Regions from separate parts of the Homo sapiens genome. Here regions 2 and 3 are each linked to region 1. The links come from fine-mapping of genetic effects on gene expression. A gene starts in region 1. Each other region holds a variant in brackets. All regions are shown on one strand. Distances are from middle to middle.

Region 1 (9,969 bases):
CCTATGTTGGAGGCATATCTATGGGGGCCAGGGATGGAGACATCGTTGTTATTGTGGCTAGGGAAGTGAGTGTGCGTGCGCGCGTGCGTGAGGGAGAAACTGGTTCTGTCGCCAAACCCCGCAGTCTCTGGACCTTTCTTCATTTTGCCCCTGGCTGTGAGAGGAACAAGAACCCTCCTCCCCCCTTTGCTTAGGAGGGAAAAGGGACATTTTGTCCCCACAAAGAAGCCAGCAACCCTTTTCTGCATAGACAAGGCTATTTATTCATAAGTCCAGCAATTTCTTATTCCCAACTCTTCTCAGTAAGCCCTACCCAAAATGCCAAATCCACCTCTTGAATCCACTCCCTACTGCTCCCTTCTCCTCCCCCCACCCAGCCCCCACCCCCAGTCACTGCCACCAACTCTCAGAAGTCTAAACTTTTGAGATTTACATGTGAAAACAGCGTTTCAAAACCTCGTGATTTGGGACAAGGAGACGCTTCTGTCCTTTGGGGGAAAACAAAACCCAACCGAAAATCATAAAGCTCAGAAGAAAACACCATCTCCCTCCAAATGCATTCCCTGGGCCCCCAACTCACACGTGCTCTGTAGCAGATAGGGCTTTCAATGTGTCTTTTGTTTGATGCTGATGTTTCAACATCCTCGACTTGAAGAGGGAAAGGTCAGCCCAAGGCTTGGGGTATTCACAAACCCACCCGGCCCCTGCACTGGGGCCAGGAGCCAGCAAGTGAGGGGCCAGGAATTTCCCCCACTCTGGACCCCCTCACAAAGCAGCCGGGGCTGAGAAGGCTAAGAAAGAGCTTGCTCTCTCATCTCAACTTCCCCGATAGCTCAACAGCAGCTTCACACTCCCGGGACCGTACAAGCGCCAGCGAACGCAGGCTGGAATTCACCAGCGCCAAGCTGCCCGGCTCTCCAGCCCCGGCGCCTGCCTCTTTATCTGTACCTTCAAAAACAGTAATAAGCAAACCCAGGCACCTCTGGGAACAGCCTCTGGCCTCCTGCCCTGCCCTGTGTAACCAGCCTGTCCTCACACCCACCAGGGAGGAGGAGTCGGCACTGGTTAACCCTCTGGTCTACCAGGCCCGGTTCCCAGGTTGCAGCAGGGAGACAAACTGTTGCTCAAGAAAATCCTTCAGAAAACCCTTGGCACCAGGAGGCAGCTCGGAGCGGCTCTGCACCCGGCGCGGAGCCAGGGGCTTCCACAGGCGGCCGCCCACTGCCCTTTTAAATCTTTGGGGCTGGGCCCTACTCTCCCATGCCCTGGGCTGTCCACCCAGAGGGCTCCAAATGTCCGTGGCAGAGCAGAGAGGAGGGAAAGGCTGGCCGAGCCGTGCCCTCACCCCGCCAGCCCAGCCGCCAGCTTCTTGGAGGACCTCTGAGAGAACATTTGTTTGGGCTGCCAAGTTAAATCTTCCTCCCTCATGTCAGGGCATTGGAAAAGCAGTCAGGGGAGAGGAGAAGGGGGAGAGCGCGCGGGGGAAGGAGCAGCGGGAGGGAGGGAGGGAGGGAGGCAGGCGGGCAGGCTCAAAGCCCCAGTTACTCGGGCACTGCCTACCCAGGAAGCTGACGGCTCCCGGGCAGGCGCAGCCGGGGCTCCGGGCACCGAAGCAGGGACCCGGCCGTCAGGCCTCCCCGGTCAGGCAAGGGTACCAAGCACCCTTGGCCCACCTGGGAGCGGCCCTCGCTCTGTGACCTGCTGGAGGGACGAGGTGGGAAGGGAAGGCAGAGAAGGAAAAAGTTTGCTGCAGGTAGAGGGGTAGGGCTGGGCGGCAGTGCCGACCGGCTGTCCCCGGGGAGGGGTGGGGGGCCCGGACCGGCTGCCCTGGCGCGCTCCCGTCCGCCCGCCCTCCCGCCCGGGTTGTTTACATTCCTGGAGTGTCTTTTAAACCCGGGGCTGAGGCCGGCTCCCGGCCTTCTCCGGCGGCTCCGGGGCAGTCTCCCGTGAAAATCTGCTGGCGCACAATGGCCGGGAAGGCGGCCGCCCCTCGCCCGCGCCCCCACCGCTCCAGGGCGGGGAGCCTGCCCTCCGCACCGCGCCCTATCCCCGCCCGGCCGGCTTCCTGGACAGATGTCCCCAGCGAGGGGGCGACGCGCGCCCGCTGCCCGCGCCCTAGACGCCGAGGCCGCGCTCCCCACTGTTTTTTCCCCAGCCCAGACGCCAGGAATGTGAAGCAAGCTTCCAGAACCCGCCTCCCCCCCCCGACCCCGGCTCCAGCCCCGGCCCCCCAACCTCCGCCCCGGCTGGCCTCCCACTCCCCCGGGGCCACCGCCGCCGGAGACGGAGAGGAAGAAAGAACACGGGGAAATTACTTTCGTATTTGCAACGCGCGCGCGCACACACACGCACATCTTCCCCCTGGGCTCCCCTCCTGGCCGGGGCAGCCCCGTCCAGGCACTGGCCTGAGCGCCCCTCTGGCTTGCGAAGCCCTGGGAGAAAACCCTGCACACACACCTCCGCGTTTCTCGTTTGTACCGCGCGCCAGCTTTCCCCGGGCAATTCCCACACAAACAACTTAACCGCGCCCCCACCTCCCATTTACAAAAGTGTATGTTTTCCCTGGAAATTCAGACGCACAAGTTAACACCACCACCCCTTGCCATCCTGAAATCCAGCGCTTTCCCCAGCGGTTCCTGTACACACACAGGCGCACAACTTCGCATCTCCCCAGAGGAGGCGAAGGAGACCGAGGCGGTCCTTCCCTCCCTCCTCCGATTCCCGGTCCTGCCCGGCCCCCGGGTGTAGGGAGCGAGGGCTGGAGGCGCGCCGGCAGGAGGCGGGCACCGGGTCCGCGCGCGCACGACCACACTTACGCCCCGCACACCCTGACAAACCCGGCCCCCACGCGCAGCCCAAGCCGGCTCCGCGCAGCCGGGAGCTCGCCGGCCGCCGGGCCTCGGCCCCCGGCCGCCAAGGAGAGCGGAGCGGAGCCCGCGCCGCCGGCCGGTCGCCCCGCTCCGGGGGACACTTTAAGGGAAAAACCCCAGCACCCAATCCCCACGCTTGCACCCCGAGAGTCCCCGGGGAGCGGGAGGTAGCCCCGGAGCCAGCGGGCGCCTGGCTCTGGCCCCAAACTTACCGGGCGCTGCGAGCGCCGCTGCCGCCGCTGGAGGACGCGCCGCCGCCACCGCCGGGTAGGGCAGGCTCGGGCCGGGAGGAGCGCAGCGAGGGCGCCGAGATCCGCTCGGCTCCGGCTCCTGCTCCGCGCCGGCTGGGGCTGGGGTCACCGCGCTGCGCCGGCGTTGCTCGCTCGCTCGGCCGCCCGATCGCTGCTCGCCCGCCTGCCGCCCGGCCGCCCGCTCTCCCCGGCGCCCGCCGCCGCCGCTCGCTTTTTTAATGTCCACAGACAGTGAAAAGGAACTCGGCGTTAGGGGGTGAGTAAGTGAATCAACTCGCCCGGAGCCGAGCAAGTTGAAGTGTCAGATTACATTGGCTATTCTATTTCCAAAGGGCCCCGCGCCGCCGGCCGCCCGCAAAAGCCGGTGCGGAGTCAGGCCGGAGTGGAGCGCCGCGCCGCGCCGCCGCCGCTGCCGGCGCTCGGCTTGGCTCGCGCTCTGCGCTCTCTTTCCCCTTTCCTTTTCGCCTCTCCTCGTTCTCTCCCTCGCCTTTCCTTTCCTTTCTCTTCCTCTCTTCCTCGCTCCTCGGTCTCGGCGCTCTCCCAGCTTTTCTTCTCCTGGCTCCTGGTTCCCCGCTACGCCACCAGTCCACTCACCTCTCTCCTTGCCCTACTCCCTCCGCTACTCCCTGACGCCCCCTGCAGCCCCCAGCCCCCCTGCAGGCCCCAGCCCCAGTAAGTTTGGAGAGGGGAACAAATGCTGAGCCTAGGTAGGGACCACCTTGGGGAGGAAGCCAAAATCACACTGCTCACCCGAGAGCCCCTGCCCCGCGCTGGCACGCCCCCGCCTGGAGTGCACTCGTGGCCCCGGGCGCTGTCAGGTACCCGAATTGGGGTAAGCGAGTTGGTAACTGGACCTCCAAAGCCTTCCCCTGGGGTTGACTTTGGAATTGTTCCTACAGCCCGGGGACTGGTGGTTGGGGTGGGAAGAGGACCACCACCACCAAGGGTGACTTTGAGGGAGACTAGAGCGCGGCCCCCCGACAGCTGTGGGGGAGCGGGGGTGTGGTGGCCACAGTTGATCCGCGGCACCTAGCACAGTCCAGAGACGCGTGGATTCCCCTAGGCCCGGCGCGGAGCGCCCGGGGCGCTGTGCGCGCGGGCTGCGTGGGAGCTGCTAGGCTGGGGCCTGGCCCTCTGCCCCGGACTGGGCACTGCCAGAGATAGCGGAGAGCTAAGGTACTCACGAGGCGCAGTTGGGTGCACCCACTCGCGGGAGTTCCCCTAGCCGACCCACCCCCCCCCCCCGAGAGCATCCAACTACGCGCCCACTTTGGCTCACGTCCACTGCCACTCTCACGGAAACTCCTACAAGAACGGCACACACGTTCGCTCCCTCAGCATTGCAAACACGCTCCCCCCCAAACCACAAACGCGCCCCCACACACTCGCTTACTTTCCCTCACAAAGATGCCCGCTTACACGGCCACAGCAGGCACGCTCAGAGACACGCAGTTACACACACACATCGCTGTACACAACCCCACATACAATCAAAAAACAAAACACGAAACGTTCCCCTGGGCACTAAATCCTCACGTTAACGTACACACACAAACACACGCCCTCCTCTCCCACTTCCTCTTCCATACCCCTTCCTCGAGGCCCCCCACCCCTGATTTTCGGCACCCCCAGTCCCAATCATAATTGGCGCCCGCGCAGCCCTCTTTGGACACACACGCGCCGCCCACGCACGCGCTCCCCTCCCCGGCAGGCGGGGGCGGCTTCGGCCGGGAGCCGGCGGAGCCCGCTTCGGATTCCAGGTGTGGCAGTGACTCCGCGCTCCACGTTTTGCAGGCTGCCACCGTGTCGGAGGCGAGGCGAGGAAGGGAGCTGGAATAACAAAGGCAAGTTGGGGAGAGCGCAAGGGGGCGCAGCCCCGGCCGGGCTGCGGGGGGAGCCTTGCACGGCCGGGGCTTCGGAGGCTGCAGGGTCGGGGGCGCGGGGAGCCGGAGGTGGGGGAGGAAGGGTGGGGGGAGAGGGGCGGGGCTGAGGCGTGACGTCAGAGAACAATGACACCGCCGGGGGGCGGGCACCCGGAGGCGGCCCAGGCGGGGGTCTCCCCCGGGGCCTGGGGCGGGCCGAAGATGTCCAGGCCTGGCCGGAGCCGCCTCCTGATTGACGAGGCCCGCATGGGAGTGCGGACGTGCAGCACAGATTTGCGGGTCTCCTGGGCCTCTTGGGCGGTGATCAGCGCGGACCTTGGGCCAACCGGGGAAGCAGGCCGGAGCACTACCCCCCACCCCCATTTTAGAACATCCTTCTGAGGGCTTCGCTGACCTCGGCTTGAACTCCTTCAGAGCCGGAGAGATCACTCCTTCCACCACCGAGGGAGAGGAGGCAAAATGAATTTGCCAGCTTTGAATTCATTCTCAAGGCTCCGCTAGTCTCACAGCCAGTGAACTCAGTCTGGAATTCCTGAAAGCTCAGAAAACTGCTGCTTAGGTCCACCCGGGCGTGGGGGACGGGGTGTGTGGGGGCGCAGGCGGCGGAGTGGGGGCGTTATTTTATTTTCCCCAGGGGAAATTCTGCCTCCCTATGCCATTGGGTGCAAGAAAAGGCACTCCTTTGGGGCCTCAGTCTTCCTACCTGTCACATGGACATGGACTGTGATGACTGCTGCTCTTCCACCCCCGCCCTCCCTGTAGGTGGCAGCTGAGCATCCCTGGAGAGGGTGGGTGGTATGAAAGCACTTCCAGACCTCTAGGGACACCAGGGAGTCATGGTCCCAGCACATTGCTGTGTGATTGAGCCCCTCCTCAGCCTGTGGGTGGCCTAAGTTCACAGGTAGGTACACCAGGGCCACCTGAGAAACCTCCGAAGGTAGGAATTAAGCTTGCAGAACGGTGGCTGCAGCCACAGCTGTCCCACTCCCAGCAATCCACAGCATTGCAGCAGTGGCAGCAGCCACCCCATACCCAGGTCCAAAATCCCAAAAGAGAGTTTCTGGGTATTTAAGGATTTGGGATGTGATAATCCAGCCCAGCCCACAATTAGACCAGTTCTTGTTGCCTTAATGACCAGCTAGGTCTGGACGCCCAGCCCTCTCAACCTTTCTGTCCAGATTCCTCAATAAGTATCCAGGGCCTGCCCACTTCCAGGAATTGGGGGATGCAGGTGACCTCGGAGGTGACCACTCATGTTCAAAGTCTCCTGTCCAGAAGCTCCACCCCCTACCCCACATCCCAGCCCCCTACTCTCCCACCAGTATTTACATCTGAAACCCAGGAAGTGGCTGCAGAGGGCAGAGGAGCCAAGTAGGCTCAACTTAGTAGCATGGAACCAGGGATCATTTCAACCCTCCCCTTCTGTGCAAGCATGGCAGCAAGTCAGAAAGCCCACCAGGGTCCTGGGTCTTCCCTAGGCTCCAGTCCTTGGGTCTCTGAGGCCCTTGCTCTCTTTGTTCATCTTCCAGGGAGGTAATGGGGTAGATTGGATACCTCTGGGGTCTTGGAAGAAGCTATGACTTATTTACTGTCTACTATGTGGTGAGTACTGTGGTGGGTCCTCCTAGGTATTGAGAATTCAGTTCCCTGATTGAACTGTCACATTGTCTTAAGTTAGGTGCCGCTACCATCCCCCTTTCAGAGGAAACTCAACTGTGAATGACTTGCCCAAGATTGGTCAGGATGGGAACTCGGGCCCCCATGAACAGAGTTTCCTGTTGTCCCCTCAGCCCTGGCTCTGTTCATCCATAGACTGTGTAGCCCCAAGCAAGCTGCTTTCCCCCTCTGAGCCCCTGTAAGGTCCATGGTGCCATCAGGACTCACTGGGAACTGTGTGTCCAACAACCTCACCCCCAAAGTCTCAGCCTCACTGGGCCTGGAGATCTGCTGGTGAGACAAGAGAGGACAGTGCCATCACTTCCTCGTGGCCCAGAGCTGGAAGATGCATCCTGCTCAGCCCCTGCAGGCCCAGAAGTCACCTGGCTCCACTAGGAGGGCATGGGCAGTGTGGGGCCGCCAGGTTGTACCAACCTTCAGAGCACACTCAAGTGCTGTTAATTTCCCTGTCCTGTGGGAGCCACCAGCAGATTGGGGAGAGGACCATTGCTGGGGCCTGGGCCCAGGTTTCAGGAGGCAGAAAATCTGGAGGCCAGCAGGATGGTGGGGGTGGGAGGCTTGAGGTCCCTGAGGGAAGCAAAGGACTTGTGTAGGGTGCGGCGAGTATGGCCTCCTAGGCTGGGCTGGGATGGGGGCGGGTACACAGTGGGGATTCCCACCTGTCCAGGAGCTGCCTTCTCTGTCCCCACTCTCCACCTCTCACTTCTGGAACTTAAGGGAGCCAGGGAACATCTAAAATTGAGACTAGAGAGGTGGGAAGAAAATCTCATTCATTGAGTACTTACTGTATGCCACGCACTTTGGAAACATTCGTTGTATTCTCTCCACAAGCCAGGTGTCATTCCCTGCTAAGGGAAGAGGCTCAGAGAGGTTAAGTGACCTGCTCAAGATCTCATAGCTGGCTGAGCATGGTGGCTCATGCCTGTAATCTGTGCACTTTAGGAGGCCAAGGCAGGGTAGATCACTTGAGCTCAGGAGTTCGAGACCAGCCTGGGCAACATAGCAAGACCTTGCCTCTACAAAAAATACAAAAATTAACCAGGCATGGTGGCACATACCTGTAGTCCCAGCTATTTGGGAAGCTGAGGTCGGAGGATCACTTGATCCTGGGAGGCTGAGGCTGTAGTGAGCCATGATTGTGCCACTGCACTCCAGACTGGGCAACAGGGCATGACCCTGTCTCATAAAAACGAAACAAAACAATAAAGATCTCAGAGCTGCTAAGTGGGTGGAGCCGAGATTGGGCTCCAGGTTGGGCTGGGCCTTGAGGTTGAGAATAGGGACTTGCCCTCATCTCACTGCCAGGTTATGGTGCAGATAAGGTAACCTACCAGGTACTTTGGGGTGAAGTAAAGACTCTCACCCACTTGCCAGGGAATGACCAGGGTGCCTCCCATGGCAGTGAGGTAATGGAGATTACATTTAGAGTTCACCCCTTGGTGGATACAGGAAGCATTTGGGCCCTGCCCAGCTCTGAGCCCTGTGCCTCTAAGAGGTGAGTGGTTGGGTCAAGCAGGGAAGATCTATGTCCTTCAGCGAATTAGGCTCCCCTGCTCTGCCTCCCCCTCATTTCCAATCAGATGGCCCCTCCATTCTCTGAGCCCACACCTTCCCATCCTCCAAGGCTTGACTCTCCAATGTCCTTCCCTCAAGCCAGCCGTCTTCTCACTTTCTACCATGGAGTTCTGCCCTATGGTTCGAGACCCAGTTCAACCACCAACCCCTTCTTCAGATGGGAGTCACAAGAGAATAGGCTGGGAGCCTGCCTCAGGAGCCGGGACACCTATGTGCCCAGCCCGCCATTGCCTGACTTGCTGTGTGGCCTGAGCACATCACAAACTCTCCCTGTGCCTGTTCCCCATCTGCCAAGTGAGAGAGTGTGGGATATCCACCAGCACTTTTGCCTCTGATTGTCCTAAGATTCTGTAGGTCTGAGCCTTTAACCCTTGGACTGAGCTACAGTTCACTTTAGAGTTTGAGGGCGGCCCTGCTTTAGGGAGGGCTTTCAGAGGGGGCCATTTAGTGGAGTAGGGACAAGAAAATACCTGGAGGGAGCTGCTCAGAACTGTGACTATCTAGGACTGTGAATAGGTAATGACCCTAACGCCTCCCTTCATGAGGCACCTCTCACCCTCTGAGCCTCACAACAGCCCTTTTGTGGGTGACTAAGCTGAGCCCCAAAAGGAGGTGATGGCTTTCCCTGACTGCACCACTGGGAAGCACCAGAGCTGGAACAAGAGCCAGGTCTCAGCCAGGCATGGTGGCACATGCCTGTAGTCCCAGCAACTCGGTGGGGGGACAAGAGGGGGTGCAAGAGCCACATCTCCTCATGCAGTGTCCCCTCACCTGCGTCAGGGCCCCTCCAGAGGAGCAAGTACATGCGGCACTGATGAGGAAGTCTGGGACAAGCGACCTGAGGAGGACCATGCCTCCCACTTCCTTCCTGATAGCTCCTGCACCCCGAGAGGGGTGGGGGAAGGTCTCAGATCCTCAGCATCTCTCCTCCTTCTGGCTGTGCAGTCCTCCAGCCTCAAGACTCATGCTTCCTTGCCCTCACCTCATCCTGTGGCCATGCAGGGTGACTTCCAGAATTGCCAGCATTATGTACATACTCTTACCTCTGTGCCATTGCTCATGCTCTTCCTACCTCCTGGGACACACCCCTCCCAGTCACCAAGGCCACATCTGCAACCACTTGCTTGGAAGCCTACCCTGATACCTCCACCAGATGTGCCGTCTTCCTTGTCTTAACCCCCATATGCTGCTCTCCCAGCCTCCAACATCAGCATAACCATAGGAATTACTTGTGAAGTTCCTGCTATGTTCCAGGCATTGAGTAGCTCATACACATGAACTCCTCCCATCCTCTGAGCTATTAGTATTCTCATTTTACAGATGAGGAAACTGAGGCACAGGGAGTTTCATTTCCTAGTATGACACCTCACAGGCTAGGGAGGTATTGTGTTACATGGCCCTCTTCTGTCAAGGCTGCAGGTCATAGGATGGCTCACTGCTACATCCCATCACCCAGTGCAAGGCCTTGGGGGCTGACAGGCCATCCGGAGCAGGGGAGGTATAGAGGCCCACAGGATGGAGGATGACCAGAACCAGCCCTCTGGGGGCTCACAGTCTCTCAGGAAGGACTGCCCACACCAAATGCCATTCTTTTTTTTTTTTTTTTTTCTTGAGACAGAGTTTTGCTCTGTCGCCCAGGCTGGAGTGTGCAGTGGTGAGATCTCGGCTCACTGCAAGCTCCGCCTCCCAGGTTCACACCATTCTCCTGCCTCA
Region 2 (9,969 bases), 23 kb after region 1:
GATTACAGGCGTCCGCCACCATGCCCAGCTAATTTTCTTGTGTTTTTAGTAGAGACAGAGTTTCACCATGTTGGCCAGGCTGGTCTCGAACTCCTGACCTCATGATCTGCTTGCCTGGCCTCCCAAAGTGCTGGGATTACAGGCGTGAGCCACTGCGCCGAGCCAGCAAAGTCTATCTTTATTTGCGGGAGGGGGGGGGCGGAAACTTGTTTGTTGGGTTTTTCTTTTTTATGTGTTTGTTTTTGGTGCAAATTGTTTGGCAGTGGACACGGCCAGAGGAATTCAGAGAGTGGAGACAGTGGATTTAGAAATTCAACTGAGAGGCCCTGGAAGTCCATTTGGGGCCTGCCATCTAGCTGATGCTCAGCACAGGGCTTGGCGTCGCGTGCCCTACCACCTGGCCTCCCAGGCTTTGCCCAATCTGTGGCTTCCCCTGGAATGTAGTTCTCTGCTCTTCTCTGCTGATCAGACCCCTCCCCTCAGGTCCAGGCCCTTGGGACCACTCTCTCCAAGTCTCCTCCCCTGCCCCAGCGCCTCTATCTGTTCCCACTCTGGTCCCAATTTGTAATACCTGCTCATGCAGCCTGCCTGTCCCAGAAGCAGCCTGGGTTCACCAGGACAGGTGTCTGTCCTGTCCCACCAGTCAGGCTCAAAGTCTGTCCAGGAAGGCAAGTCCGACCCTCAGTCCTGGAGGGGGCCATGCAGTGAGCTGGCAAAGACCTGTACAGGCTCATCCAGGAAGTCTCGGCCCAGAGGCTGAAGGGTGGCCAACCAGCACAGTTTGCCCAGGAACGAGGTAGGGGAGGGGCGGGGGGCGGTTTCCTGGGATGCGGGACTTTCAGTGCTAAGCTGGAATGCCCTGTTCACCCTAGCTGAAGCCACTTGCTCAGAGCCGCACAGCAAGCCCACCACCCTGAACCTCCAGATTACCAACTCAGCATTGTGTCCTGACAGTGTCATCATAGATGGTCAACACCGTCACCTGGGCAGCACTGAAGCCCAGAGCGGGAGAGACTGGCTCAAGACCATGGGTAAGTCAGCAGCAAAGCTGGGGAAAGGAAACCACCAACCTGAGAGCCCCTGGCTGGTTCCCAAATCCAGGCCCTTACTTCTCTTCCCCACCATCCAGGGTGGGGGGCAGACACCCAGTGAAATGGCCTGCCCCAAAGGAGGGGAGCCTTGCCGAGCCACCCCAGGCCACCTCAGACCCACACCCCCAGCTCAGCGGTTGGAGGGGCTGAGGAGGGGCTGAGCCGCCACCCCCTCCCCACCCCAGTGCCAGGGCCCCAGCCTTGCAGCGCTTGTCCCCAGCCCAGATGAGCAGGGCGCCCTTATCAGATCTCCGTTTCTGTTTCTCTCCTCTGGCTGCTTCTGCCTGGCCCTGCCCCCAACCCCGGTGGCCTTTTCCTCTCTGAAGTGATGTTCCTTTTCCTGTCACCAACACACACAGCACACAGAGAAGTTTGTTTCTGTTGCTTTAAAAAAGTTTCCTTCTGGGGAGGAGGGCAAGGGGTTGTTTACTGGGCCTGCAAAGCCTCACCGTGGGTGTGGGCATGGGTGTGGCATGGGTGTGGGTGGCAACTGGGTCCCTGCTGGATTTGGGGTTGGTGGAGGCTGCACCCACGACCCTGGGCCTCTGGATCCTGTGCAAAAGCCAGGAACGTGGAAGGAAAACCTCCTGTGCACCCTGCTCAGGGCTGGGCTGGTTCACCCACCGTCCAGCCACACTCCTGCAGAAACCTGGGAGGTCAGGGGTTTTGTTTTCCATTTTCCACAGGAGACAGCTGAGGCTCGGCCAAGGTTGCCAGGGTCCAAGCCTATGGATTTGTGGTCTGGGCTCTGCCAGTGGCATGGCACTGTCTTCAAAGCTCCCACCCTACCATTTTTCTTACCCACACAGGGCAGGCTCGACCCAGCTAAGGAACACAGCTTCCTGAAGCATCTGTCCTGGGCCGTTGGCCCTTCTGTGGACAGGGCTTGAGCTCTGTAGGCTGGATTTGAATTTCAAGTCCTCCTGCTGTGTGACCTTGAACAAGTTACTTAGCCTCTCTGAGCATCAAATGGCTTAACTATCAAATAAGAAGCACAGAGAAGTCCCCAAGAGCCAGTAGACTCTGGAGGCTGTGAGACCGGGGACTGGGGCTCCTGCATCCTTAATGAAGGTTTCAGTCTTGAGTCGCGTCTGGGAGACCTGCTGAAGCAATGGGGAGCTACTGTAGGTGGGTAAACAAGGGAGAGTGTGATGGAGGCCATGTTCTAAAAGGATTCTATAGGCAGCAGAAGGGAGGAGGGCTCAGGGGAGAGGTGGAGGAGCTGCAGGGGAGAGGTGGAGGCTGGGAGGCCAACAAAGGAGGCTTTGACTTCCTTTTCAGAAAAATAAGGCCACCCACCTCCCACCAGGAGCAAGAGTCATGGAGGGAGACTGTCTCAGCTGGCCTGGCCTGGCTCCTGCCCAGGACAGAGATCCCGGCCCCTGGACTCCTCCAGCAGCCCAGTGTAGGGGAGGAGTGCCTTCCTCCCCATGCCCAGGGTAGCCCCTTGTCTGAGAGTGGTGGTTGTGGCAGGCCCTGCTGAGAACTGCAGTTTCATTTCCCACTGACCTCCACCCACTGGACTCTCCCAGGCTCTTGTTTCAAGCTGCCTAGTGCTAACCCCAGCCCTTGAGCCAGCTCGCTCCAGCCTTTACCTCAGACCAGGGCACTGGGGCTGTGTGTAGGACTCACACCTCCCAGGTCTGTCTCTTACCTTGGGACCCTTAGGGCAGGAACACGGGAGGGGGGCTCTGATGTATGATGTCAGGGAACTCCGAGGGCCACCTCCTCCTCTGACAAAAGCACCTTCTTTGTCAAGTGAGTAATTCCTCTGACACATGTCGCTCTGACATGGCACAGGTCTTCTTAAAGATGAACGTCCTCCATGACCTGTGTGGGTTTCCTGGGAATAACCCACAGTAGTGGTCAAGGAGGCCAGGAAAGAAGAACTTCTACTGTTTCCCCCTTTTCCAAATTTGTTGGATGGAGATATAGAGGGTGGGGCCACCTTATTCTTCAAAAGGATTTTTAACAGCAGGGAAAAGGAAGGGTTGAGTCTCACAGTCCACACTGCAGCCACCATAACCATTTCCCAGACAAGTAAACTAAGGCCCAGGGCGAGATCCCAGGCTTCCTTACTCAACTTCCAGCCAGGGCAGAGTCTCTCGAACGAAAGAAGGGACGCTGCTGCATGGCTCACGTGCTCAGCCCTGGTAATAGAAATACGTCTCCAGTGAGATCTAATTGTAACTCTCATTGGGACCTGCGTCACCTACAAGGCTGGCAGCCAGACACCCTGAGAATGCACCAGCTTTACTCTTTTTTTTTTTTTTTTTTTTGAGATGAAGTCTTGCTCTGCTGTACAGTCTAGAGTGCAGTGGCATGATCTCGGCTCGCCACACCCTCTGCCTTCCAGATTCAGGCAATCTCCTGCCTCAGCCTCCCTATTATATGGGATTACAGGCATGCATCACCACAGCCTGGCTGATTTGTGTGTGTGCGTGTGTGGTATTTTTAGTAGAGATGGGGGTTTCACGATGTTAACCAGTCTGGTCTCAAACTCCTGAGCTCAAGTGATCTGCCCACCTCGACCTCCCAAAGTGCTGGGATCACAGGGGTCAGCCACTGCACCTGGCCTACGAGCTTTACTCTTTCCCTGGGTGATAGGGTGATGGCAGTCTCTGGGGCAGGGGGAGGAGTGCTGTGCCACATGCCCTGGGCACCTGCTTTGCTGCATGTCCTTCTCCAAGGCTCTGATCCTCTCTGGGCCTCTTTATTTCTTGCAGTGCCTGCCTCATGGGATTGCAGGGACCAAAGGATTTGGGTGCCGGCAATTGGAGGGCCGTTCTGTGGGCCAGCATTGGGCAGGCGCCTCCCACATGGTTCTCTTTTTGTCCTCCCAGTAGCCCTGTGCATCAGACGCAGAGCTGTGCTGCATGCACCCACTTGCCCCACTCGCCTCAGAGGAGCGTTCCTTGCAGGAGGAATTTGATAGATTTTAATACCAGGGTCCCCTGCTGACCAGGCTTTGCATTTCCTTACCTACCCTCGGCTCTAACTTTGGCCTGGCGAAGCAGGGCACCACAGGACATCAGGGTCACACATCTCAGACCACAAGAGCCTCAGCAGTCTCCAAGACAAAGTAGAGATTGAAGGCCCTGCTTCTCCTTCCAGAGTACTGAGGAGCCTCCTGCCTTCCTGAGTGAGGCTGGGGGATCAAAGCTCAACAATAGTGGGTTGTCAGAATTACGTTTCTAGAAAGGAAAATCAAGACTGATTTTTATGGGGAGTATAGCATTATGCTCCAGTAATAGTACTATTAGCTCCATTGCACAGAGGAGGAAATTGAGGCTTAGAGAATTTCTGATTGTCTAAAGACATCTTTCCTGGAACTGGTGGATCAGGGACAAGAACCCTGATTTGTTGATGTCAAAGCGTGTGTAGTTTTTCCTTTTTTATATCTTCTGGATCAGCAAGACCACCGCATTTGGGGAACAGAAGGCACAATGGGGGGAGTGGCACAGCTGCAACGTGAAGGGCTCCATGTGGGGCCTTGGAGACACCAAGCTGCCCTCCTCCTGGTCCGAGCTGCCCACTTCCCATCCCTCATCCCTCCTCCTTCAGCTTAGGGCCAGCTGCACCTGGCTCCAGGCCCTCCACTCAGTGTGGAGAAGTCCTGGCCCTCCTCACCACCTTCCCACAGCCCCTGCTCAGCTGCAGAGCCTGCCGTGGGCCTTCTAAAGCTGTGTACTGCTCCCAAAGGTGGCAGCAGGCAGAGCCAGGCCTTGCTGGGGGCTCCTTCACCCCTTGGAGTCTGGGCCTCAGAGTGACGTCCCAGGCTGAGGCTCATTGGGAGGGGTCAGCATTGGCATCAGGAGACTGGGGTCAAGTCTGAGTTCTGACAGTGACTGTGTGACCTTGGACAGTCACTTGCCCTCGCTGGGCCTTGGTTTTCCTGTTGTGAAGTCATATGGTCCTGGGATGTGGGCAAGGGTAGAGAAATGAGACACTTCAGCTCCCCACTCACAAGCCGTGCCCCCTCAGGCCCACCACTTAGGTTTTCTTAGCCCCTCCATTTTCCCCGGCATAAAATGGGGATAATGAAGCCCATTCCTTCTGATCGTTAAGGAAACCAGCATTTACTGAAGGCTCGGCCCCGTGCAAGATGCTCTCTGAAGCATTTTCTCTCATGGACTCCCATCCATCCAACAATGAAATGAAATGTCTTGCTTTTGGTCTTTCATACAATGTCTCTTTGCAGCCTCTCCTGGTCTGACAGTCTCAGATGCAGTCATGGATGGCTTTCTGGAGGAGGTGGTACCTGGTCTGTGGGAAGTAGGGGTCAGCATCCTGGTCTCTGGGAGCATCTGCTCCAGATGGTTTCCCTGGGGCCCCCAGAAGCAGGTGTTTGCGCTAACAGCTCTGCAAGCAGAGAGCTTCAGTGCATGGCCCTTCTTGCCCTTGTTCCCAGGCACATGCT[G/A]TTCCCCTGGGGCTGAATACCCCACTTACTTGTAAATCCCAGTGCTCTCCTGTTCATTCTGCAGTGCCAGCACAAGTCTCCTCCTTGGGGAAGGCTTTCTGGACTTCCCAGCCCACTGGCCATTGTTCCGTCTTGCAGGTGCCCCCTCAGGGTGCCTGCTGTAACCGTCACTCACATATCTCCCCCACCCAACAGAGGGCCTTGCTTTTGGTCCTGGACCTGCACCTTTGACTGTATTCTTAGTGATTTGTCCAAGCCCACCCTGGGAGATAGGGGCGGTGCCAGGCTAGCACCCAGTTCTCCTGGGTTCTCTGAGAAAGTTCCTACCTTCTTCCCTGGCTCACAAGTAGTACTTAAGCAGTTTTGGTTGTTAAAGAAAATACTGAATTTATTCTTCCAACCACTCATATATATATATAAATCAGTGTTATTGAGAAACAATTTACAAAATGCACCCATTTTCACTGTACAGTTCAGTGAATTTTAACAGGTGTGTACAGTGGTGTAAACACTGCCACACCCAAGATATCACACATTTCCATCACCCCTCAAAATCTCCTCATACCCCTTCCTGATCAATCCCTCTTCCTGCCTCAGGCAACATTTGATTTGATTTTATCAATATCGATTAGTTTTGCATGTTCTAGAATGTCCTATAAATTGTGATTAGGCAGTATGTACTTTCTGTGTAGTGCCATGCATGTTGTATCTTGCATGAGTAGTTCGGCCCTTTGCATTGCTGGGTAGTATTCTGGAGAATGGACATTCCACAATTTGTTTATCTGTTCACCAATTGATAGAATTTGGGTTATTTCCAGTTTGGGGATTTTATGAATAAAGCTGCTATGAACATTCATGTGAACATGTTTTCATTTACCTTGGGCTAATGCCTGGAACTGGTATTGTTGTATTGTCAGGGTAAGTATATGTTTTACTATATAAGAAATTGCCAAATTCTTTTCCAAAGTGTTTGCACCATTTTAGCCACCAGGAGTGTATAAGAGTTCCATTTGTTCCATATCTTGTCAACACTTGGTATCATCGGTCTTTGAGCAATTCTAGTGAGTATGTAATGGCAACTGTTGCTTTAATTTGCAATTCCACGACAACTAGTAATGTTGAAAATGTTGATCATCTGGTTATGTGCATATGCCTTTTTTGGCAAAGCACCTGTTTGAATCTTTTGCCTAGTTTTACTGGTTGTTTGTCTTCTTATTGAGTTCTAAGAATTCTTCATATGAATTCTTGACACAAGTGCTTTGTCAGATATCTGTGTTGCAAAATATTTTCCCAGTTGGTATCTTGCCTTTTCATTTTCCTAATTGTATCTTTTGAAGAGTAAAAGTCTGATTGATCAGTTTTTGCTTGTCTAGTTAGTGCTTGACATGACTTGTTTAAGGAAACTTTGCCTGCCAACAAGGCTGCAGATATTTTCTCTGCAGTTTTCTTCTAGATGTTTTATAGTTTTAGCTTTTGTGTTCAGATATATCGTCTGTTTTGAGTTCCTTTTTATGAATGATGTGAGGTGGAATTGAGGTCCATATAGATATCCATTTGCTTTCTCTATCATATTTGTTACTGTTTTCTGTTATTGCCCTTGTTTTTCATTCTTGGTTTTGCTTTCCACTCTTTTTCTGCTGTTTGTGGTTTTAATCAGGCATTTTATATGATTCTATGTTATCTTCTTTCTTAGCATATCATTATACTTTTTTTTTTTCTTTTCTTAGTGGTTGCCCTGGAGTTTGCAATATACATTTACAGCTAATCCAATTCCATTTTCAAATAACACTGCACTGTTTCATGGGCAATGCATGTACCTTGTAATAACAAAGTATTCCTTCCCCTCTCTCTCTTCCCTTGTAACATTGCTGTCTTTCATTTTACCAACCCATAAACTATAATCATTGAATACATTGTTGCTGTTATTTTGAACAAACTGTTATCTGTTGTATCAATTAAGAAAAAGTTGCTTTTTTTTTTTACCTCCATTTATCCTTCTATGCATTCTTTCTTTATGTAGATCTGAGTGTCTGACCTGTATCATTTTCCTTCTCTCTAAAGAACTTATTTTAACATTTTCTGCAAGGCATGTATACTGGCAACAAATTCACTCAAATTTTGCTTGTCTGAGAAAGTATTTACTTTTGAAAGATAATTTGGCAGCATATAGAATTCTAGGTTGATGGGTTTTTTGGTTTGTTTATTTTGTTTCTCTCTCAACAGTTTAAATATTTCAATCTACTCTGTTTTTTTTGTGTGTGTGAATGGTTTCTGAGAAGTCTGGTGTAATTCTTACCTTCTTTGCTCTTCAATAGATAAGAGTTTTGTTTTTTTTTTCTTCTGCCTTCTTTCAAAATTTTTCTTTATCTTTGATTTTCTGCAGTTTGAATAGACAGTCCTAGGTGTGGATTTTTTGGAATTTATCCTACTCACTGTTCTCTGTGCTTCCTGGATCTGTGGTTTGGTATCTGACTTTAATTTTGGGAAATTGTCAGTCATTATTACTTCAAATATTTCTTCTGTTCCTTTCTTTCTTCTTCTTTTGACATTACTATTATACACATATTATACCTTTTGTAGTCCTGCTTGGATATTCTGTTCAATTGCTTTCAGCCTTTTTTGCTCTTTGCTTTCTAGTTTTGAAAGTTCTATTGTCATATCCTCAAACTTACAAATTCTTTCCTCTGCTGTGTCCAGTCTGCTAATGAGCCTATCAAAGGCATTCTTAATTTCTGTTACAATGTTTTTAATTCCTAGCATTTCTTTTTGATTCTTTATTAGAATTTGTATCTCTCTGCTTATATCACCCATCTGTTGTTACACGTTGTCTACTTTTTCCCTTAGAGACCTTAGCATATTAATCATACTTCATACTTGCTTTAAAGTTCTGGTCTGATAATTCCAATATCCCTGTCGTATTTGTGTCTAGGTCTGGTGCTTGTTATGCCTTTGCTGTATTTTTTTCCTTTTTGTGTGCCTTATAAATTGTTGTTGAAGCTAGATCTGATGTACCAGGTAAAAGTAATCTGGTACTAGTTCCCACAGAGGGTTCTACTGATGGGTTTCTGCTCTGATAAGTTGTAATTCTCTGTTTTCACTTGTCTATCTCTCCAGTTTTGGAGGCATTAGTTTGCCCCATGGCCTCAATTCTCTGATGAATCTAAGAAGAGTTGTTGGTTTTCAGTTTGTTTAGCTGTTTTCTTATTGTGAGGATGACAGCGATGATTCCCAAGCTCCTTACATGCTGGAATAGAAACTGGAAGTCTGGTATTTTTTTGTTTTCATGTCTTTTCTTACAAATATAATTCTTTGCCCACTGAATAACCTTATCACTTTTGTAAAAAATCAGTTGCATAGTCCCGCTACTTGGGGACTTTCTTCTGTTCCATTGATCCATATATCTTTCCTTATACCAATACCATACTCTATTGACTACTGTAGCTGTGTAGTAAATCCTGAAATCAAGAAGCATAAGTTCTCCAAATATGTTATTTTTTAAAAAGTGTTTTGGGTATTCTAGGAAGTCCTTTTCATTTTCATATAAATTTTAGGATCAGTTTGTTGATGTCTGTTTTTTAAAAGAGTCTGCTGAGATTTTTCATTGGTTTGTAGTCTTCTTATATTGTGTTTGCCTGGTGTTATTAAGCACAGTACTGCTGAGCTTGTGAAACAACTTGGGAAGTATTCCATCCTCTATGGTTTGAAAGAATTTGTGTTTGGTATTATTTTCTACTTAAATATTTGATAAAATTCACTATAGATATATATGGGCTTGGAGTTTCTTTTAGGGAAGGTTTTGTGAGTTACATTTCTGTAATAAATATGGAGCTATTTGTTTTGTTTTTCTTACGCCAATCTTGATAATTTGTTTGTTTGTTTGTTTGTTTTTTGAGATGGAGTCTTGCTCTGTCACCCAGGTTGGAGTGCAATGGCACGATCTTGGCTCACTGCAACCTCCGCCTCCCCGGTTCAAGCAATTCTCCTGCCTCAACCTCCTGAGTAGCTGGGATTACAGGCATGTGCCACCACACCTGGCTAATTTTTGTATTTTTAGTAGAGACGGGGTTTCACCATGTTGGCCAGGCTGGTCTCAAATTTGTGACCTTAAGTGATCTGCCCACCTCTGCCTCCCAAAGTGCTGGGATTATAGGCATGAGCCACCGTGCCCAGCCAATAATTTCTATTGTTAAATGAATTTGTCTCGTTTATTTGAGGTGCCAAAGTTGTGATCTTAAAGTTGTTTATAATATTATTTTGGTATCCTTTTAACATCTGTAAGATCTGCAGTGATGAATCCACTTTGATTCCTGATATTGGTCATTTGTGTTTTCTTTTTTCTTCATCAGTCTAGCTAGAAGTTCCCTGATTTCCATTAATCTTTTCAAAAGCATATGCTATGGTTTCCATTGAGTTTCTGTAAGTGCATGCCCATTTTCCTTTTTGTTGGTTTCTGCTCTT
Region 3 (9,969 bases), 89 kb after region 1:
TTACCAAAATGTGTGAATATCAGGCTATGGAGTTTGGACATTATCCCACAGCTCATTCCTTCAGGTATTTATTCCACTAATATTTACTCAGCACTTACTATATATTAGACTGTGCTAGGTACTGGGCACACCTCAGTGAAAAAATAAAGGTCTTGTTCCCTGTCCCTGTGGAGCTTAGAGTCTAGGAAGGATCCAATGAAAATGATCAAGCAGTAAGCAACATAGTCAATCCAGGATCTTAGGAAAAATGAGTTCATAGTAGCTGAAGTGGAGGATGGATCAGAAGGCAGAGGTGAGGAAACAGGTCAGAAGGAGGCTGGAAAGCGCACAGGCCAGAGATGAGTGTCTGAGCCTGGGCGGTGTGGAGGGGATGGAGAGGAGGCGACGTGTGATAGATCAGAAATGGCTGCACATCGTTGCTGCTCCTCCTATCAAGAAATAGAGTCTAATTTTTGGCCCTTGCATTGAACTGCTTGATCAGTAAATAGAATGTGGCAGAAGTGATGTTTGGGACTTCCAAGGCTGAGTCATAAGAAAGCACACAGGTTGCTTGGGATCCTTGGAACACTCCATGTGGAAGCCTTGAGCCCCCATGGAATCCAGTTACCCCAAGGCTGCCACGTGACAGGTGCTCTGGAGGACAGTTTCAGTGGAGCTCTGCCTTCCAGGCGTCCCCATCATGATGCCAGACATGCGAGTGAAGCCAACACAGGGCTTTCAGAAGGGCCCATCCACCAGCTGAATAGTACTTGAGTAGCACCCATGCACGCCATAGGGACTGGAAGATTTACCCGGCTGAACCCTGTGTGAATTCCTGATCAACACAAATCTCAAGATAGAATAAAATCGTTTTCATTATCAGTCACTAAGTTGTAGAGTAGTTTAGTATACAGCAACAGAGAAACTGGAACAGAATGGAAGACAGAGGCCCTCAGAAGGCAAAGCCAACAGGGCCTACCCTCTAGATGGAAGGAAGAATGCCTGTCACTAAAGGCGGCGTTGAGGGATTGGGGCATTGACATTGGAGTTACCAGATTTAGGAAAATAAAAATACAGGATGCCCCGGTGAATTTCGGGTAAAGAATGAATACATTTGTAGTATAGTATCTCCCGTGTTGTATGGGACATACTTATACTAAACACTCATTGTTAACCTAAAATCCAAAGCTAACTGAGCACCCAGTATTTCACCTGGCCACCTGGTCCAAGTTGGGGAAATGATCTGTGTAAGGGCTAGAGGTGGAGATCTAGGAAGACATCTAGGAAGCCTGAGAGATGATGGGGTGAGGGGCCCTGGGGTCAAATGTGTAGGGTCCGGGAAGCCCAGGCAGGGGGCAGACTGTGCCACTGGCCGTGGAGAGTCCATGTGGGTCCATGTGGGAACTGGAGCATGTTCCCTTGGCAAGTTTCTTGGCTGTGGCTGTGCCTGGGCCCCCTCTCAGGAGCCACACTCTATATGTGGTGCTAGTGACCGGGACAGGCAAGTGCAGCCCTCTCTGCCCTGACGCGCCACCTCCCTGCAGCATGTGAGGAATGTGGCCTGCTGAGAGCTCCCTGCATGGCTGTGGCTGGGTGCCCAGGCTGCTGTCCATCTGCCCTGCGGAGGCATCTCCTTCCCCATCCCATCCTGTTGGTTCTCCTTGCAGACTGCTGTCCCATTAAATCCACAGACTTCTCCTCCACATCTTCAGAAATGCTGACACACGAGCACTGTCTGGAGACTTGTCTGCTGGTGGTGTGTGGAGCGCTCCCCGGAGCAGGGCTGGGCTGAGGTGGCAGAGAGCTCTCCTCCCTCCTGCAGGGCCTGGGGCTGGGGGACTCCTGGCACTCTCCACTCTCTCTTCTGTTCCCAGCCTCCTGGAGAGCCAGGCCTTTTCTAACCCTGGGAAGCCCCCGGGAGAGGTGCATTCAGGCTGCTACTCCAGGGTCTGCTGCTTCTGTCCTGTCTCTCCCCAGACCCTCACAATAGCTGTGTCTGACGTCTCTCACCTGGAGAGGAAGCTGTCCTCCTAAGTCTGCATGCAGAGCCGCAGCCACCTCTGAGCTAGGGGAAGTGTGGGGTTCTGGCCTGGGTTGGGAAGTCCCTCTTATGGCCACACCTCTTCCCTTGGGGCTCTGGCTTGGAGTCCCTTTGAAGCAGGCCTTTCTCTACAACCTCCTATGGCTCCCCATTGCCCATGCATCAGCCTGAATGGCCTGGTTGGCCTCACCCTGCCTACCCCAGTCTGCCCATCACCTTTTCTTCCTCTTGACCCAGACACACCACCCTGGTTGGCAGGAACCTTCCCTCTGCACATCCTCTCCCCCAGCACTGCTCAGACTCCACTTCTTTGTTGGGAAACCATCAGACCTACTGTGTGCTGAGCACTGAGCTAGGTGCTCTAGGGGACACCATGTGATTTGGATGAGGCCCCCCCCTTCAAGGAATGAGGGGTTCCCTTGAGAAGACAGGGAGGTACGGTAGACAGATGGGCAAACCAAGTCAGAACTGGGTGTCTTCCCTTCTAGAGTCAAGAATCTAGAGCCGATCTCTTCAATGCTAGCAAGTGACTGAGTGACCATGACTGAGTGCCCCGAGGTTTCTGAGCCTCAGGTGCCTCATCATGAACTGTAGCCAATGCTACTCTTTTCCTTCCTACCCCACAGAGTGTGAGAATCAAGTGAGACAGCAATTGCGAAAGCTGGGCAGCAACATGTTTCTTAGTGGATAGGGATTATTTTTGTCTGGTGGAGCACATCTTTGTTTATTTGTTTGTTTGTCTGAACATAAAGGGCTGCTCTGCAGAAGCGGAGGACAAATGGTTCAACTCCAGCTGGGTGAGTTGAGGCAGGTTCCGTGGAGAAGGGTCACTGGAGGTGGGACTGAAAGAGCACGAAGGGATTTTCCATGAAGATGAAGTCAAGATGGGGCAGCGAGCGGTGGGAAGGGCGTTTCATTCTCTGCAGATGGCATGTGCAAAGCCACTGGAGAGCAACAGAGCCTGGCATATGTGGCCACCCAGGCTGACACCCAGGGTGTGTGAGGAAGGGTGAGACAGAATGGGGAGCCCAGGGATGCTGGAGGGAAGAGGTCACCCTGGGGTCAGCATGGGAAGGCCTTTGCCTGCCAGCTGAGGAGTCTGGACTTCATCCACTTGACAGCGGGGAGCCAAGGAAGGCTTTTTGCAGGAGTGACACGGTCAAAGGCATGCCTTGCCCCTTCTTGATGCCGTCGTAGCTCCTCTCCCTTTTTTCAAATTTTGCCTCCTCTGTGGAGTTTTCTCTAAATGTTCTGAGTCCCCCGACTCGGGGCACAGCTGATGCTCTTGGGGCTGACCAAGGAGGGGGTTGCCTCCTGTCTGTCCTTCCCCGGTGCCAGCCTGAAGCCCAGTGCTGCCTAGGTACCTCATGTCCTTCACCGAATCTCACTGACTGTCCCAGTACGCATAAACCGTGCTCCTGTCTCTTGCTCTGTGATGTTGGCATGAAATACTCAGATGCCACCACAGCAAGGATTGACCCACATCTCTGGGGTCAAACCAGCTCGGAGGGGCCAAGTCATGTCTCGATTTGATTTTCCTGGATTAGAGTCAAGCTCAGTGACTGTAACAAAAACAGCACCCCCTCCCTTGGTTTAGAAGAGTTGTCATCCCTGGATCTGGCGGCTCTGGGCTGTTTTTATTTTTAACAACCAGAGTTGCCTTGTGGCTGGAGGTGAAAAGCAAAATGCATAGAGAGCAGAGAGGAGGCTGTGTCTATGGGGTCCCTATGGATGGGGGCACAATCATCTCACGAGCGCCTTGGTGACGTCGAGGCTGCACCCTCATTCATAGCCTCCAGGAATTCTCTATGTAGATCTTAAAGTCCCAAAGGGTACTCTGGTTCTATTCTTAACTCTGTAAGAATAAGGGGGATACTTATAACTCTATAAGTATAAGGGAGAAACTGAGGCCCCATGTGGGATGCATCAACTCAGATCACACTGGGGGTCAATGGCAGAACCGGGAGTAGAACCGTGCTTCTTGCTTCCTGGTGGGTGCATTTTTTCCCGGCCCCAGCTTGGTTCTATGTATGGGGACTAAACTGAGTCAGGGAGAGCTTGGAGGGGAGGTGCTGGAGTTGAGATAGAGCTGGAAGAAAGGGAGCTTCAGTGACAGACACCGATGCAAAGCTGGGACAGAGCTGCTGGGGAAGATCTGGCTTAGATTTGGCCAAAAATTGTACACTGCTCATTTTAAATGCTGTATGGTGTGCCCAGTTCAGCCACCCATCCGCTGGAAAGGGTGGAAGGCAACACAATACTTTTTTTTTTTTTGAGATGGAGTCTTGCTCTGTTGCCCAGGCTGGAGCGCAGTGGCCCGATTTTGGCTCGCTGCAACCTTCACCTCCTGAGTTCAAGCAATTCTCCTGCCTCAGCCTCCTGAGTATCTGGGATTACAGGCGTGTGCCACCATGCCTGGGTAATTTTTGTATTTTTAGTAGAGATGGGGTTTCACCATGTTGGCCAGGCTTGTCTTGAACTCCTGATCTCAGGTGATCTACCCAGCTCAGCCTCCCAGAGTGCTGGGATTACAATCGTGAGCCACTGTGCCCGGCCAATACTTTCAAGATTTCCTAAGTATGGAAGGAGGAGCCACCCTTAGGCTCCGCTTGGAGCACGGCTGGAGAGGATAGCTGGGCATGAGCTGGGTATCCACTGAGTGCCAGGCATCTTTCTTACCTCCACCTATTTCTCCTGAGCACCTAGTCAGTTCTGGGTGTTGAGGGTATGGATATCAAAACAGAATCCTACACTTTATGGAGAAGACACCCATCTCGACAAGCACTGTTTTTTTTTTTTTTTTTTGAGATGGAGTTTCGCTCTTGTTTCCCAGGCTGGAGTGCAGTGGCAGGATCTCGGCTCACTGCAACCTCCACCTCCTGGGTTCAAGCAATTCTCCTGCCTCAGCCTCCTGAGTAGCTGGGATTACAGGCTAATTTTTTGTATTTTTAGTAGAGATGCGGTTTCACCATGTTGGCCAGGCTGGTCTTGAATTCCTGACCTCAGGTGATCCACCTGCCTCAGCCTCCCAAAGTGCTGGGATTACAGGCGTGAGCCACCGCACTGGCCTAAACAAGTACTTTGAACAGAATGATCTTATCCCCTAGCACAGCATCAGCCTCAGGTGGGAGGAGGGGTAGTCAGTGGAGGCTTTCTGGAAGAGGAGGCGCCTGAGATCAGTCTTGAAAGACGAGAGAATTAAGCAGACTGAAAATGGGGCAGAGTGCTGTCAGCAGATGAAACAGCGTGAACAAAACCAGGGAGGCATGAAGCTGTGTGAAGTGATTATTGCCTTGTGCTGTGATAACACACACCCCAGCCCAGGGTGGAGGGAGAGGATTCTGGAGGCTCAGTGGGGCACTGGGTCTGCCGGTGGGCCACCCTTAGCAGTTTGATTTCATCTTACAGGTTCTAAAGCTGGAGAGCGGCTTGTTTGGATTTGCATTTTAAGTGGTGACCCTGGCAGCAGTGTGGCAGCTGACTCAGTGAGCAGAGGCATGAGGCAGGGGAGGCTGTTGCAATAACCCAGACAGGAGATGATGAGGGCTTGACCTTGGGCTGTGGTAGCGGGACAGGGAGAGGGACGGGTTGAGAAACATTTAGGAGGTCAAGTTGTTGGGACCCAGAGACTGATGGGATGTGTGTGGGATGAGAGGGAGGAGTCAAGGTGGCCTTGTCCTGGGGCTGAGCAG[T/G]GGTGCAACCCAGCCCTGAGGAATTCCGGGAGTGGAGCCGACTTGGAAACTCAAGGCCAATCTCAGGTTGAGACATGGTGAGTCTGAGGTGCCTATGAGGTGTTAAGGTGGCCACAGAACCCCAGGAGGCAGCTGGAAACCCAGGGTCTGGAGGGCAGGAGAGGCTGAGCCAGACGTGTACGTCTGGAAAGGATAAGCCCACAGCAGTGGGGGAACCACAGGGGTGGTGAGACGGTCCAGGAAGACCCACAGAGGGAAGAAGGGATCTCTCCCTGCCATCCTTGGCCTCTAGTGAGTGGGTGGAGGAAGGGGCACCCGCAGGAGAGGAGGGATGGTCAGAGAGGTAGGAGGCTAGCAGAAATGGTGATGTCACGTGGTCCCGGGGAGGACACAGCTGTTAAGTGTGAGGATGTGGGGGACTGCACTGAATGCAGTAAAGTATCCCACAAGAAGAGGACAGCAAGTGGCCTGCCAGGGAGAGGCAGAGATTAGGGAAGATCTCCTTAGGATGGGAGAGATGTGAGCACATGCAGAGGCCTGGTGAGAGCAGGAAGTCTTGGTAGAGAGGGACATGCTGTAGGCCAGGGAGAGATGGGCGAGGTTCCAGAGCGGGCCTGCCCAGCACCTCACTGCAAGGGTGGGCTGGCAGGCTGAAGAGAGACCTTCCTTACCCTCTGATTCTGGACAGAGGATACTCAGGATGGGTGTGGGGCTGTGTTTGGAGGCAGGGCAGGGGCAGCAGGTCCCACCAAAGGGCCTTCATATTTTGACGAAGCCAAGTGTCTCTGGGAATTGAGGTTGGCAGAGGGAGAAGGGTGAAGGTCAGTGAGACAAAGAACCCATGAGGGAAATGGGAGGCCGGCAAGCAGGCAGAGGACTTTGGGTTCATGTCCACGGTGCAGTTGAGACTGGAGACCTCATGTTGACACTGGCGCCAAATCTTCATGCTGTGGGCCCTTGCCAGCCTAAGCTTGCCGTGTAAAGAGTGTGGTTGGGTTGGCCCCTGTTAAGTCTGGCTGGGCGGATGAAGGGAAGGATGGGGGTACTAAGAAATCAGGGGTGCTGGTGAGAGGGTCATTCTGATGACCAAACCATTGGAGCAGTTGGAGAATGTGGTCAGAGGGAAAGAAGAGATGTTGGGGTTAAGATGGAAGAGGAAAAGCAGTTTCGAGTGGTGGCCTGGGATTGGGGGCTGGACTTGAGTAGGCTAGAGGGTCCCTGGAGAAGGGTGCTGGAGGTCCGGGGAGTCCAGGTATTGGATGGGTCACCCACATGGATGCTGAAGGCCATCAGCTGCTGGCAGACCTTGGACAGGGAAGGAGAGGCAGCGACCTGAGGCTGGGTAGTTCAGGAGCAAAAGATGCTGGCTAGGAAGGTGGGATCCAAGAGGTTGGGAGAGAGGGGAAAGTAGTAGAATCAGGAGGCATGAACCCTAAATGAGAAAAAAAAATCCCATTCTAGGGCAGGGTGCAGTGGCTCATGTCTGTAAACTCAGCACTTTGGGAGGCTGAGGTGGGCAGATCACTTGAGCCTAGGAGTTCGAGACCAGCCTGGGCAACATGGCAAGACCCTGTCTCTCAAAAAAAAAAAAAAAAAGAAAGGGTCTGATGGCCTCACAGTCTGGAAACACCCCTAGGGATGTGAAAGGGATGTGGGGATCTTGGGAACCACACAAGGGAGTGAGATGTAGGAACAGAAACAGCCGCCCCAGAGAGGATAGAGGAGATGGGTCACCAGCGGCAAAGCCTCCATCACAAGGCTGAGGACAGAGGGGGTGCTCTTAAAGGAAGTGGGGTCCCAGAAGGGCCAGTGGGGAGGTCTGGGAAGGAAGGTCGGTGAGGCAAAGCGCAGTGACAAGGGATATGACTAAAGGAGGGTGCACTGTGAGCTGTCAGCAAGGAAGCAGGGGTGGGTGGCATGGGGCAGGGTTTCCAAGAGGCAGGGGTCTGTAGGATGAGTGGGAGTTTCTCTGGTGAATACAGGAGGCAACGGGCAGGGAAGAGTGGTCAACAAGCGGGAATTCATTCGTTCCGCAGACACTCACTGGGGCTTCCTATGCTTGGGATGCATCAGTGAACAAAGTGGCAATCCTCACTCTTGTGGGTCTTACACTCTAGCTGGAGGAGGTGGGGGACAGAAAACATCACAAATACGGTCAGAGGTGAATTGTAGAGTGTGTTAGAGGGCCATGAGGCTGTGGCCAAAAGAACAAGCTGAACGGAGCCAAATGGAGTTGTGCAGGTGGAGGGGGCAGGGGCTGGGGGAGCCACTTTGAAGTCGCCGCATAGTGGTCAGGGCAGGCCCGCGTAAGGCTGGCACTCTGGGCCCATGTAGAGTTCCACCCAGTTTGACAGGAACGGCAGTGGGGCTGAGGATCTTGGGAGAGGTGCCTGTATGGTTACTCTGCTGGGTGGTACATGGGAAAATCTCAAGACAAGAATCTTCAGGTTGAGTGAGAAGGGATGGGAAAAGGAGGCAGAGAAAGCAGAAGAAAACCAATATCCACGGGCACCTGCCGAGGGCCAGGCATTGCCCTGGGGACGGCCTCTTGAATTGGTCTCTCCTAACCCTCAAGACAACCCTGTGAGTTAGGAAGGAATTGTTCTTATGGGTCCAGTTTATTTGAAAACAATAGCACCATCAACATGAGCTAATGCTTAGTGCTGTCCTGAACAGTTTGCCTGGATTTTCCTAATGCACCCTCCTGAGCTCCCATTGAGGCTGGTGTCACTGTCTCCACTTTCCAATAACAAGTCTGAGGAAGCTGGGAAGTGTCAGTGCAGTGGCCAAGCTCGTGGACCCCGCAGCCAGCCTGCTGGGTTGGCTTCCCTGCTCACCAGCTGTGTGGCTTTCGGCAATTCCTTAACCTTTCTGGGCTCAGCTTCCTAACCTGGAAAAGAGGAGAGTAAAAGCACCTGCTTTGCAGGGTCGTGGTGAGGATTAAATGAGGGAATATATGGAAAGCACGCAGAACAGGCCCCTGCACCTAGTGGGCGCTGTGCAAGGGTGCGCTGCTGCTATAGTACTATTCCTGCCCCAGCTCACTTAGGAGAAGGCTTTGACCTGGAGCCTGGTGGGACCGACCCTCGCCTCTTCCCGGCTGACACTTTGCTCTCTGTGGTTCTGGACTTGCAGAGCCAGGCTGGGGAGGAAGGAGCTGTGTGACTCCCACCGGGCCTGCTCCTTTGCGGCAGGCATGTGACATATTGTGGCGTGATGTGTTTTCCCCTCATGGTGCAAGACGTGACTCAGAGGGGCATGCTGGGGAAATGAGTTTCTTGGATTTGCCCACCTCATCGCCCCTGCATTCTTTTGAATTTCTCTGAATCAGACTTTATATCTGGCTCTGCCATTCACCAGCCTTATTTATGCAGAAAACAGCCCCACATTTCCAACTTGCTCCACAGCAGTAAAGATTCATCTTTGGCCCGGGGAGGGTAGCAAAAGAGAGGAGGGAAGGGGAAAAAAAGGAAAAAGAAAGAAAAAGGAAGGAAGAAAGAAAGAGCCAGCAACAATCAAAACAACCTTTTTCTCCCTGTGTAATCTGGGCGGCTTCCAGGAGGATAATGTCTTTCCACCGTGGATCGCCCCCTCCCTCCCAGGCTGTTTTCACAGGAAGTAAACCCTGGAGCATTTTCAATGTGCCCCTCCAGGCAGAACAATGAGGCCCTTGAAGCCTCGGAACCCGCGCTTCCTCCAGTTATCCGGAGCCGCGCCGCTGAGGGGAGCCATCTCTGGGGAGGGGGCAGGGGGGAGGGGCGAGTCTGCAGGGCGTTGCGGAGCCGCACGAGGGAAGCCCATTAGTCAAATAATAGGTTTGGATCCGACTGTTTTGCCAAGGTACCCGGCATTTACCCGCTCCCCGATTGGGGGCGGGGAGCTGGGAGGAGGCAGCGAGGATCCAATTACGGCTGCTACTGCCCGGTCGCCGGGAGGTGGCGGCGGGCGGGCCGGGCCGGGCTGGGCCGGGCGGGGCCGGGAGGAGCGGGGATCGGGGATCGGGGATCGGGGATCGGGAGCGCAAGCCTCGGGCCGGCCGGCCTGGAAACACCGCGCCCCGGCCCCAGCCCCGGCCCTGCGCCCCGCGCGGGCTCCTCCCTCCCCACCGGCTCAGCTGCCTCATTGTTTATTGTGGAGCCTGCCTCTCCCCTGCCCGCCCGCCCTCCCGCTCCTTTCTCCCCTCCTCCCGAAAGAAAGAAGAGCCAGTGTGTGGAGAGAATGAGTCATGAATAAACAAACAGCGTGGGGGGAGCTGTC

Alleles and levels. Alleles are on the strand shown, and positions count from the first base shown. SD is a standard deviation of normalised expression in the study named. Not every link is listed here.
As copies of G replace T in region 3, the expression in fibroblasts of the gene that starts at base 4,905 in region 1 goes down (small effect, 0.38 SD a copy in GTEx).

The links.
Region 2: its variant is fine-mapped to the expression of ZMIZ1-AS1 in sigmoid colon (GTEx, PIP 0.91).
Region 3: its variant is fine-mapped to the expression of ZMIZ1-AS1 in fibroblasts (GTEx, PIP above 0.99). The same link has a PIP of 0.9 or more in thyroid.

The regions. Positions count from the first base shown.
Region 1 is chr10:79,062,384-79,072,352 of GRCh38, reverse strand. ZMIZ1-AS1 (ZMIZ1 antisense RNA 1) reads left to right here and starts at 4,905. Exons shown (of 10, transcript NR_024431.2): 1 at 4,905-4,965; 2 at 5,767-5,905; 3 at 6,534-6,606. It overlaps ZMIZ1 (zinc finger MIZ-type containing 1), which reads right to left and starts at 3,387. Exons shown (of 25, transcript NM_020338.4): 1 at 3,083-3,387. RefSeq lists enhancers at 1-71, 2,377-2,426, 3,628-4,473, silencers at 2,627-3,606, 3,867-3,936, 4,737-4,946, 5,047-5,096, 5,137-5,346 and a cis regulatory region at 3,069-3,754.
Region 2 is chr10:79,039,836-79,049,804 of GRCh38, reverse strand. It overlaps ZMIZ1-AS1 (ZMIZ1 antisense RNA 1), which reads left to right. Exons shown (of 10, transcript NR_024431.2): 5 at 873-1,031. Among named protein-coding and RNA genes, the nearest start is that of ZMIZ1-AS1, 23 kb to the left of the region's middle. RefSeq lists enhancers at 261-943, 1,379-1,438, 1,551-2,750 and a silencer at 2,676-2,735. The variant G/A (reference allele first, on the strand shown) is at 5,512.
Region 3 is chr10:78,973,679-78,983,647 of GRCh38, reverse strand. The region is part of intron 5 of ZMIZ1-AS1 (ZMIZ1 antisense RNA 1); the gene reads left to right. Among named protein-coding and RNA genes, the nearest start is that of ZMIZ1-AS1, 89 kb to the left of the region's middle. RefSeq lists silencers at 1,196-1,387, 9,384-9,873 and enhancers at 2,067-2,146, 2,626-3,126, 3,127-3,627, 8,953-9,002. The variant T/G (reference allele first, on the strand shown) is at 5,713.